Homo sapiens: one gene and its partners. The protein of the gene in region 3 purifies or fractionates together with the protein of the main gene of each other region. This does not show direct contact. Each region holds a gene or a part of one and is shown on either strand. Other genes may lie near its edges.

Region 1 (3,648 bases), on a different chromosome or scaffold from region 3:
CTGATGCTCTACACATCCTGCATCACCCTGCTCAACAACACTTTCCCAAAAGCCTTCTAACTTATAACCTCCATAAATGTCTTATTTCCCCAGTCTCCCATTATACTTCGTCGGTACTCATCCACAGCATTTTGAGGCTTTGTGTTCCTATCTAGCTTCCCAACATGAAGAGAGAACCATATTTTAGCCAGTTACATATCCAACATAGAGCCTGGCACATGGCTGGATGTCCCATTTGCTTCTGAATTGATCAGATGGAGTGAGTACAAAAGTAAGAATGAAGAACATTGAAATAATTCATTCCAAGGGAAAATCATGTGTTCCTAATTCTATTTCTTAAGAATAATAAGAGGTTCTCTAATAGAGCACCTCTTTATGATATAAAATCAAGTGCCACAGTTCTTTGCTTGACTCATACAAAATTAGCATAATTTTCTGAGAGAACAAGCAATAGAGAGGAATCTAAAGAGATACTCACCTAGTCTCTCACTCTGTAATGCAGCAGCCTGATTCATGTAAAACACACCAATTTCATTTCTAATGTTACCCATTCTCTTTAATACTTGTACATAGTGTTCTGGATTTTGGCTTTTCAAGTCACTAAACTGCAAGATTTCATTAGCAGCCTCATAACATTTACAACTAACAGAGAGTTGACTTTCTAAGTCTGTAGACAAATCAGTTGCCCATGCAAATCCTGAAAAGAAAAAAGGGATACATCAATGCGAATCATGTGATTCCTTCTTCCTCAGTATCCAAATGAACCTGAGATTCTAAATTCTAAGTAATAAAAAATGCAATATAGTGTAAGTATACCAAGATTCAATCAATACAACAATATTTAAGTTTCATAATAAAGATCTATTTATTTATAAAATTATATTTCTTGGGATATTAATGTTGGATAAAAATATTTTCCTGCCTATGAATATCAAACAATTTCTGTGACCCAGGTTTTCCCAGGTACACTTGTTTATTAGAATGGACCTAAAGTTGTCCACTAATACAAAGTAAAGTTGCTATTTTTAACTAATGGAAATAGTTCTTGAAATAATGTCCCAATATTAACTTTAAGTCACTGAAGAGGCTGCTACAGAAGCCCTCGAAGATTAAAAATGCCATCTAGTGGGGACTAGAGTAAAAAGAATATTTAACTGAAATTGCTATGATGGGAGTAGTAAAAATACACCAAGGACTTTCCTACTACATTAAAACATGATTATTTGAGAAAGACGGAGAGAGGGGAAGAAAGGGCAAAACTATTACAAAATAACACATTTTTCCCTCTCCCCCAGTATACTCCTCTAGCTATGAATTGTCTAAAACTCTGGGAGGCAAACATCAAGTAATATTCAGTATAACAATTTAAGAGCATAATAAAACAACCCCATGAGACATTACAGAAGCACCTTCAGAAGACTCATCTTTTACTTCATTCACTGTGTTAATGGCAGCGTGGTTACACACTGTGCTGAGGTAAGAGGGAGGGATATCGCTGCTGCGGATCAGATTATTCTACTTCCCAGTTTTAAAGCCTGACAATTCCAAACAGAGTGACATATTAAGCAAGACAGGTGGCTATGAACTAACTTTAAAAACAATGATCACTTTATTTCAGCCCCAAGGAATCATTCAGAAGGTTAATTAACCTCCTTCACCAACTGTTATACCTTTCAAAAGGAAACCTATGGCTTTGTTAGCTGACTACAAGTGTTACCTAGAAGAACCTCATGAAAAGAAGAGTGTAAAAAGCTGACACAAGGCTGGGTGCAGTGGCTCGTGCCTGTAATCCCAGCACTTTGGGAGGCCAAGGTGGGAGGATCGCTTGAGTTGAGGAGTTTGAGACCAGTCTGGGGCAACGTGGTGAAACCCTGTCTCTAACAAAAATACAAAAATTAGCTAGGTGTGGTGGCGCATGTACTAGTCCCAGCTACTTGGGAGACTGAGATGGGAGGATCACTTGAACCCAGGAGGTGGAGGTTGCAGTGAGCCAAGACTGCCCCACTGCACTCCAGCCTGTGTGGCAGAGCGAGACTGTGTCTCAAAAAAATAAATAAATAAAATAAAATAAAAAGTTGACACAACTGTCTTCATATCTTACTTTATATTTAGTTCTAGTTATATAAACAGTAATTATAAAATACTTAAAAACCATTTTATACAAATACACAAGATCATGCTTAATCTTAAAATTAGGAAATGAATAAAACAGCAGGCCAGGCGTGGTGGCTCACACCTGTAATCCCAGCACCTTGGGAGGCCAAGGTGGGCTAGCCGGGCATGGTGGCGCATGCCTGTAATTCCAGCTACTTGGGAGGCTGAGGCAGGAGAATTGCTTGAACCCGGGAGGCGGAGGTTTCAGTGAGCCAAGATTGCACCATTGCACTCCAGCTTGGGCAACAAGAGCGAAACTCCGTCTCAAAAAATAAATAAATAAATACAGAGCAAATATCAAAACTCTAATATTTCTACCCCTTTTCTGAATACTCAAATAAGCATGAGCTAGACTGCACAGTCCCACTGTGAACCACGTGGTCCAAGCCTGTGGCACACCTTGGCAACTGGACTCTCTGTGAAGGCTATGCAGGATCTCCTGGTCTTCTTTTGTTTGGTAATGAAACTCTTCAAGGTGTGCTGCTCTATTATTTGCATTCTGGGCCAGCATTAGTTGGATATCACCACAAAGTGTCAAATATTGAGAGAGAAACAACAGCACTTCGGAAAGCATATTGGTGCAGAGGCAGCAATAAGTATCTGTTTAGAAAGGGAGGGAAGAAGAAAAAACACAAATGCAGAAAAAAATTAATGATCATAGGAAATATGAAGAAACTGTGTTACCAGCTGAACGCTTTGTAGCACTGTATCTATTCTGTTTATTTTAGGTCCAACAATACATATTACGGCTTCATGTAGTTCAAAGCAAAGAGATGTTAAACCACTGAGCAGAAACTAAAATAGAAGGTAACACACACAGGATTGGAAACAGTCATTTTAAAATAAAGATTTACTAGAAAAATAGGAGTAAACTTCCACTGTGATTCAGATGCCTTCTCTGTTCTCTCTTCCCAGTGCCTATTAAACATATTCATTTATAGTGGCTTACCATGGCTTTGCAAAGCTAATTTAATGTATCGTAATGCTCTTCCGTATTTCTGAAGACTCATGGCAGCATCGGACAAAACATAATAGGCCTTTGATGACTTGAGAATCAGCTGAAGTTTCATTTTATGTTGCCAAGAGCCAGGGATCATTCCAGATTGACTGGAATAATTGCCCTTCTGAAGGGAGCCCACTGTGACATGGAGAGAAAAAAAAAGACAGCACATTTCATTTGACTGTAAGTCTCATGCACAAAAAATATTTTCTGTTTCTTGATGGAAACACTCTAGACTTAGGTGACAAGACTGGTAAATACTATGCTTTACTGCTTAAATACACTGGAGTGAAATGGCCGTGTTAAAAGACTCTCACTTGGGAGTTCTAAGGCCTTCTGCTTCCCTGACATCGGCAACTCTGTCATTCTCTTCCAGTGTCACTGACATAGCTAACCTCATGAGTGACACCTGTCTCCTTTTTCCAGTCTATGTGTCAACCTGTCAAAGTTTACCTTCCTAAAGCACAGCTTAGATCAGCGTGAAAGCCTGTCCT
Region 2 (3,648 bases), on a different chromosome or scaffold from region 3:
CTACCTCAAATCCTTTTTATTTTTATTAATTAATTAATTTTATTTACTTTTTTAGACAGAGTCTCACTCTGTCACCCAGGCTGGAGTGCAGTGGCACGATCTCAGCTCACTGTAACCTCCGCCCAAGTGATTCTCCTGCCTCAGCCTCCTGAGTAGCTGGGATTACAGGTGCCCACCACCACACCAGGCTAATTTTTGTATTTTTAGTAGAGATAGGGTTTCACCTTTTGGCCAGGCTGGTCTCGAACTACTGACCTCAGGTGATCTGCCTGCTTCGGCATCCCAAAGTGCTGGGATTACAGGCGTGAGCCACCTAGCCCAGCCTCAACAACTTTTTAGAATGAGGAGCAAAAACAATCAAATGACAACCCACTCTTGTGGGAAAATCTTACCAGGAACCCTTACGGAGTTTTCTGGTTTTTTGTTTTTTGTTTTTTGTTTTTTTTTTTTTGAGACAGTTTCCCTCTTGCTGCCCAGGCTGGAGTGCAATGGCGTGATCTCAGCTCACCGCAACTGCTGCCTCCTGGGTTCAAGCAATTCTCCTGCCTCAGCTTCCTGAGTAGCTGGGATTACAGGCATGCACCACCATGCCCGGCTAATTTTGTATTTTTAGTAGAGACAGGGTTTCTCCATGTTGGTCAGGATGGTCTCGAACTCCCCACCACAGGTGATCCACCTGCTTTGGCCTCCCAAAGTGCTGGGATTATAGGCGTGAGCCACTGCGCCCAGCCCAGAGTTATTTTTGTAGTTATTTACTTAAAAGAATTTTCCCACTGTTAAGAGTGGGTAGATAGCTAGCTAGACATGAATGGGAGGGAAGAGCCCCTGAGAAAAGGGAGGTCTGGAAAATCCCACATCCCAGAGACCATCAAAAAGATGCATGCTGGCCAGGCATGGTGGCTGATGCTTGTAATCCCAGCACTTTGGGAGGCCGAGGTGGGTGGATCCCTTGAGGTCAGGAGTTCAAGACCAACCTGGCCAACATGGTGAAACCCCATCTCTACCAAAAATACAAAAATTAGCCAGGCATGGTGGTGCATGCCTGAAATCTCAGCTATTTGGAAGGTTGAGGCAGGGAGAATCGCTTGAACCTGGGAGGTAGAGGTTGCAGTGAGCCGATACTGTGCCACTGCACTCCAGCCTGGGCAATAAAGCGAGACTCTGTCTCAAAACAAAACAAACAAACAAAACATGCATGCTAGATATGAGCAGAGAGGAGGGAAAGAGGGTAAAGGAGAAATTCCAAAGAGACATTCAGGTGCAGTAAGTATGGACCTAACCGCTGTACAACCTTCCTGGGGTGGAGGTAATGAGCAATGCAGCCATTAGGTGGGATTCACATCCAACACCGGCTGTACATGTGCACCAACTACTAGTAAGAGAGGGTCCCACAAGCTTAGAGTAGAAATTAGGTGGGAGGAAAAGGTGGGGACTTAAGGCAGAAGCGGGAAAACTAGACAAAGGAAAAAGGCAGAAACTTTAAGACAGAGGTGGGAACTTCAAGAAAAACTCCAGCATCATAAAAACCCGATGCAGAACTCTCAGGGCTGCTGGCTCACTCTCTCAGCATCCCACTCTGCCTCATCTTTCAGAACGTACTGTCTCTCTCCATATAAATTCTCTGTTCTCTATTTCCCTTCAGAAAGCTCTCTGCTATCTCTGAATTGTCTCTTGGCCAAAATCTTTCTCCCAAGATGACTAAGGGCTGAGAATATCCCCACTTCCCGGTAACACCACCAGAGCTGTCTTCAAGCTCCACTTTAATGTGAAAGAAACTGGTTTTATGACTCCAACCCCACGTTCACAGAACAATCGAACTGGATTTCATCAAGCACTGGTCAAGCACTGCTACCTCTGTCTTGCCACACACGCCCAATGTCACTGAGGATTTATTCTGCACAGCGCCAATCTCACTCTCCAGTTTCAACACGCAGTCACCGAGGCCACCCAAAAAGATCAGGCGCACAAATGCATCCTCCTCACCCAGCCCTCCGGGGCCCGCCAGCAGGAACTCCTGTCTCCCTATCCTCTTGACGATCGGCGGCCTCTCCTCACTGCAGTAGGGAAACAGGTCCTGGGAGACGCCTGTGCTGTAATTGTGGATGATGTACTGAGTGGTCAGAGCCAGACACAGGAAGTGGCCGTCCACAGCCACAGCGAGGGGCTGCTCGGCAGTCGACACCTCCTTGACGATCTGCACCCGGTCCTCGTACACCAGAAACATCTGGATGGTTCTGCGTTTGACAGAGATGATGCAAACTTCTACACAGAAGGGGTCCCCACTCACAGGGTTCTCGTTCAGTGCAAACGTGGCTGCCCCCTTGATGCGGGCCCCCGAAGGCACTGGCTCGAGGTTCAGCATGTTGACCAGGCTGATGGAGTTGTCACACAGCACCAGCAGCCTGTTGAGTGCTGAGGCCGCACGCAGCTCGTTCACGGGCTTCTTGAAGCCCAAGTGTCTCTGCAGCTGTTTGGTGGCAGTGAACGTGGCTGGCCCAGCAGGCACTGGCCTCTCCTCCAACAGGAAGTGGTAGACGAAGCAGTCGTTGGTGCCCACGTAGAGGTCCCTGCCGCAGCACTCCACGCACTCTATGTTGACGCGCTCCTTGTCGCCCATCAGCAGCTCCCGCTCCACAGCAGAGACAAGCGTAAAGGCTTTGATGCTCATCATGTCTACTGGCTGATCTGCTGGAAGAGAAAGAGGAAAACTAATTTTAGAGGAACAAGGAAGAAGCAGAAACAGAGGCTGCAATAATGATACGTGGATTCCCTAGTTGTCATTTTCATTAAAGAAAGTCATTCCACGCTATCAAAAAATGGAAAGAAACCATTTCCCCACAGACCTCCCCCATCAGACAGCAGAAGACCCAAGAAGAAAACCACAGACACATACACACACACACACCCATATACACATATGTATGTGCTTGTGATCACGTGCCATCCTGCTCAGTCCCCACACAGAGTCACCTGGAGCCTCCTCACATTGCTCCTGGGAGACACGCTTGAAGGCAGAAGACAAATGCATGCATTCACCCACGGGCAACATAACAAAAGGATTTCTGTGAGGCAGGAGGATGGCTTGACCCCAGGAGCTGGAGGCCAGCCTGGGCAATATAATGAGACCCCATTTAAAAAAAAAAACAAAAAGGATTTCTGAAAAAGGCAGAAATGATCCTCACTGATCTTCCCTGAGTTTCTACAGCTACTTGAATATGCACTTTAGTCAATGAACACAACCACAGTCACAGGATCCTGCCAGGAACACCGAGGCAGACGCCAGGCCTTGGATTCCTTTGTGTTCTTCCCAATAAGGCAGGCGCATCAGCCTCAGCTCCGGAGTAAATGTATTCATGTGGAGAGTAAAGGTGTGCCTCGGATCTCGAAAGGCTTTCAGATGGTGAGTGGAGCTATTTAGTGGATGTGTGGACCGACCGGTCCCTGGCTCCCATTGGAAGTGAGACTTTCCCACACACTAGCCCGTCGCCTCCTACTTCATCTTCTGCAGAGAACTGTGGCTTCACACTCCACAAAGTCACAGGGAGAAGATCAGGCAAGGTGGCCTTTCTGACTTCTCAGGCAGCCAGAAGCAAACTCAAAGGCACAGTCCCTGTGAGCGGGAGCAGGGCAGGGGATCAGAGAGCTGGA
Region 3 (4,365 bases):
ATGACTTTCCCAGTTTAAATATATGTTTTAAGAGAAAAAAAAAGTAGTCCAGAAACACTTTTATATTTCCTGAATTGGCCTTTGCACGATAAAGCCTTCTCAGCTCTGCATTAAATGAAATCCTGCTTGAATGGAAGACAGCAGACTAGTCCGTTTCTCAAACTCTTCAATCATGAGATTCCCAACTGAAGAAGATAGTGATGCTCCCCACAGGAAAACTCATTTCCTCCCCAGAAATCAAGTAACACCTCTTGCTTTCTGCTTCTTGCCCAGTAACATCAGGACTCATCTTGAGTTTATCTGATCATAGACTGGAAATCCCCAAGACAGAAAGATCCTGTCTCAGCATTTCTGTAAACACCAGGGAATGTGCTCCTCCTAAACTGAGTGTTTCCCACGAGGCAAGAATACTATGTACAAACCGCTATACTGTTTCAAAAGAACAGTGTAATGAAAAAGGTAACATCATGTTGCTCTAAAACCAATCACATTGACCAAGGCAAAAACAGAGCTTATAAAATTAAAAGAGATAGTCTTATATTTCCTACTTAATATTATTCATCAATTTATAATTAAAAGCTGTTATTTGCATGGGATATACTTTCCAAATAATTCCTTCTATTCACCTATACCTTTCTCACCACTATCTCAACTATGTGACCTGAGTAGAAAAGCTATTAGCCCCACTGGGTGAATTTTCACTGATGCAACTACAGCAATTTCTAAGTCCATGAGAACTGCTAGGAATGTTTAACAAAATCCAATACCTGCATTATAATAATGCACTTTAAAAAAATGATTAAATACACATCCATAGCTGAATGCAGAGATTCCAAGAACTTTGAATGCATAATTGCTACAATCATAGAGAGACTGGATTACGAGCCACGGCTGGTACGGATGGATTCCTTCCTCCCATTAAGGCACTCACAGGCAAGTGTGATAGACAATGTTGCTCTGATGACTGGCAGTGAGACCAGAAGATAGTGTGAAGGGCAGCAAGGAGGGTAGGGTGGGATGCGATAATGGAAAATGGGAGTGATTCATTCTACTTAATGCATATACGTTTTATGGGTTTAAATCTGGAGGGAAACAACTTTTTAAACTCAACTCCTTGTGTGTGAGAATTAAATGGAAGCACATCTTGGACCCCACTTTTTATAGGTTTAGTGCCACCTCAAAAAATTCCATACTGATCCATTCTGAAACAACTGCTTTTCTTACTGGAAAGCCACAAAGTTGGTGCAGAATCTATGAAATGGAAAATTAGACCCAAGCCAACATGCTCATGCATAAGCTTGATTTTAATGAAAAGGTACACGGAGCAGCCGCACCTGGAGGAAAAGCCCCCTCAGGGCTCCCCACCTCCAGTATCCCCATGTGCTTGAGTTTGCATCCTTACCCTGTCCCTGACTGTGTGACCTTGGGCAAGTTAGTTAACCTTTCTAAGTCCTGGCTTGTTCATCTTCAACATGGACATAGCAGGTTTGCTGTGAGGACTAAATGAGCTCATACACAAATAGTTTTAGCTCAGTACCTGGTACATATGAACATTTAAGAAACATGTCCTTCTCGTGATTAGATGTGACACTCTGACCATTTTAGAAGCAATTACGGTTCAGCTATCATATCCCAACATCTTGTGATAACCATTTTCATTTTTTGCTTCTAGCTCTTACTATTCTTTTCATCACAATATTTTAGGGTGGAGGTATTTGGGGGAGGAGGTAAGCAGTTATATACATCCCATTTTCCCACTGTTGTTCAAAGCAAGGTGAAAAGCCAGGGAAATAAACACATGCACTGAAGAGAAATTCAGTCTTTAGGATATGATGTGATAGGTGTATGGAATATAAACAAATCATATAATTTCAACCTCTCACATATAGGGCATCAAATCATAGGTAGGTCTTATTTTAAAAGAAAAGCCAAGCAGCATTAAAGAGGATAGAGGGAACCCATATGGGCCTATTGCTAGCTCAGTATTGGTGACTGTGAAACAGGGATGGGTGAGCTAGATTACGGGGGTGTTTCATGGGGTCTGACTTCCAACAGGTGGCTAGCTTTAGTCATGTTCAGATGCAAAACCGTAATGAGTTTGAGTATGCAAGTCCCAGGGATTCTGTTGAAGGCCATCTTTTCTCGGCCATCAAGGGAGACAATTTTCTAGGTTTAAGCCTCCCTGGCAAGTTAGCAAGCAGGGAACTGCCTGCCCTAGCTTGCACCTGTCCCCTGAAGGGGATTCTGGCCTGACGGTGAAGACCCACCATCCCTTCCAGACAGCCCATTCTGCCGCTGGGGCACCTCCCGACAAACGGGGGAAGCCCACTAGGAAGTGGTCACGACCAACCAAGCCACAAATCCTCAGGGTGTGGGATTTCCACCTCTATACCACGTCTGAAAACCGAAAATAGGCGCCCGCTTGCCATACTGCAATGGGATTCCCCCCAGCAGCAACCCCCCCCTCCAGCTTGCATGTTTTATTAATAAATGCAAGATGGCACACGGAGGCAAAGAATGGGAGGTAAGGCATCTGCAGCTGGACCCGAACCAGGGCAGTTTGCAAAAATAAATAAGAAGCATGTGACAAGAAGCAGGTCTCCAGGCTGGAGCTGAAGCCCTGGGCTGCCCCACGCACCCTCGCCTGGCTCCCCCGGCCAGGGGGATGAAGGTCAGCGGCAAGATCCCAGCCCTTCCGAGCACGCATCCTGCAAACCTTGACCGGTCCCCCCACCCCCCGCCCCGACCACAAGACTCGGGCAGTGAGGCAGGGGAAGCTCTGGCCGCGGCCGGCTGCGAGGACACATACCTGCTGCCCGGGCTCGGGATTCGCTCGGCTCTGCAGCGGCGCCGGCCGCGGCTCGCGCTCCCGGGGCTCCCCTCTCCGCCCCCCCGCCCCCTCGCGGCCCCGCCGCTCCCTCCGCCCCTCCGCCCACCGCGCTCGGGGGCGCGCGCGAGGCCTCGCGCCGGCGGCTTGGCCGAGCCCGCGCCTGCGCCCTCGCCTCCCGCCGGCCGCGCGCGCGCGCCCCCGAGGCTGCGGAACGGCGGCGCGGCTGTCTAGGAAACCGCGGCGTCGGCTGGCAGGGGCTGGCGGCCTGAGCTGGGCAGGGGGCGGAGGCGGGGGCTCGGCTGTCTCCGGGGCTGCCACGCAGAGCGGGCTTCGTGGCGTGGGTGAGGGGGTCGCGGGGCAGGGTCGGGGCCTGAGTGCGAGCGTGTGGAGAGGCGAGGGGGCCGCGAAGGGTGGGTTTGACGGGGACGCAGGCGGGGCGCAGAAGCAACAAGTGCGGAGGCCGAGGGCGTCGCTCGGGGAAGCGGAGGACCCCCGCGGGATTTCGTACAGCTGAGAATGGGAACCTCCCGTCGCTTTGGCGCAGCGCTTTGCAGTTTCCAGAGCTCTTTCCCAGTTGCTCCGTTTCATCCGCGCGGGGCGCCCGGTGAGGGAGCGGATGGCACGCAGTGCCCGCTGCGCTTGGAGGCCACCGAGGGGAAAACACCTCTTTCTGTGTGGCCGGAGTCATAGCACGGTCAGAGTGCCTTGACTCTCAGTTGGCTGCCTGGGAGAAAAATACCTGTCAGTACATTCATTTGATGGCCTCAGCTCAGGACCCTTGTAGGACCGTGTTTCTCCTCTTTTTCCGTTTTTCGTTATCTGACTCTTAAAAAGGCTTTTTACACGTCCCCATCTCCTTTCCCCGTGAAATCCCAGTACCGCAGATACACTGTCGACCTGCTTATGTGCTGTATGTGTTATCCGTGCTTGATGCATAAAAAGTAACATTGCGCCCCTTGGAGGCAGCATCGCCCCGGTGGAGAAGCCTGTCCTAGGGCCATGATTGCCAGTTACCGGGTGGGTTAAACGGAACCACTGAGCAATCTGGATGCACCCACAGATATTCTCTGTGGTTAAAAAAAAAGTCCTCACCCATAATGGGTACTACTCTAATTAATGTTTGCAAGGGCTGCTGTGAATACGGCCATTTAAGCAGCTTCTGGATTCATAGTAGCTTATTATCGTTTGTCTTCTCCACCAATTCTTGCTAAAAATATAGCCATTTTCCTATAGGGTGTTGCGATTTTTATCTTAAAATATTTGAAAAGATGGGAAACCCTTGTTTCTAGGACACGGAGTTTCAGAATGGCTTTTGGCTCTGCAGATAGGTTTGATTTCTGATTCTTGTACCTCTTCTAAAGTGTTTTTATTTGATTAGGTCCAGTTGGCCTCCCAGGAATGTCCTTTGTCTTTTCTTCCTGCCGTAGCTTTTTTAGTATGGATAAAATGAAAATGGTAGAGTTGAAGGACTTCAAAACCACCTCTTGGAATTGCCCCACGGTCTTGGACTACCTTCCCTGGATTATACGGGAATA

Evidence for each region.
Region 1: the proteins of TMEM266 (region 3) and EDRF1 purify together in Homo sapiens (affinity purification with mass spectrometry, with the first as the bait; one large-scale study listed by BioGRID). This does not show direct contact.
Region 2: the proteins of TMEM266 (region 3) and TGFBRAP1 purify together in Homo sapiens (affinity purification with mass spectrometry; 2 studies listed by BioGRID and IntAct, with this or other methods). This does not show direct contact.

The regions. Positions count from the first base shown.
Region 1 is NC_000010.11:125,740,107-125,743,754, reverse strand, and holds part of EDRF1 (erythroid differentiation-related factor 1), read right to left. Parts: intron 3,293-3,648; coding exon 3,104-3,292; intron 2,755-3,103; coding exon 2,554-2,754; intron 1,536-2,553; coding exon of another isoform or gene 1,516-1,535; exon of another isoform or gene 841-1,515; intron 698-840; coding exon 479-697; intron 1-478. UniProt on the Homo sapiens protein: Transcription factor involved in erythroid differentiation. Involved in transcriptional activation of the globin gene.
Region 2 is NC_000002.12:105,305,631-105,309,278, forward strand, and holds part of TGFBRAP1 (transforming growth factor-beta receptor-associated protein 1), read right to left. Parts: intron 2,689-3,648; 5' UTR 2,672-2,688; coding exon 1,984-2,671; intron 1-1,983. UniProt on the Homo sapiens protein: Plays a role in the TGF-beta/activin signaling pathway. It associates with inactive heteromeric TGF-beta and activin receptor complexes, mainly through the type II receptor, and is released upon activation of signaling.
Region 3 is NC_000015.10:76,058,461-76,062,825, reverse strand, and holds the start of TMEM266 (transmembrane protein 266), read right to left. Parts: upstream 2,842-4,365; 5' UTR 2,810-2,841; intron 2,672-2,809; exon of another isoform or gene 2,586-2,671; intron 1-2,585. UniProt on the Homo sapiens protein: Voltage-sensor protein present on the post-synaptic side of glutamatergic mossy fibers and granule cells in the cerebellum. Despite the presence of a voltage-sensor segment, does not form a functional ion channel and its precise role remains unclear.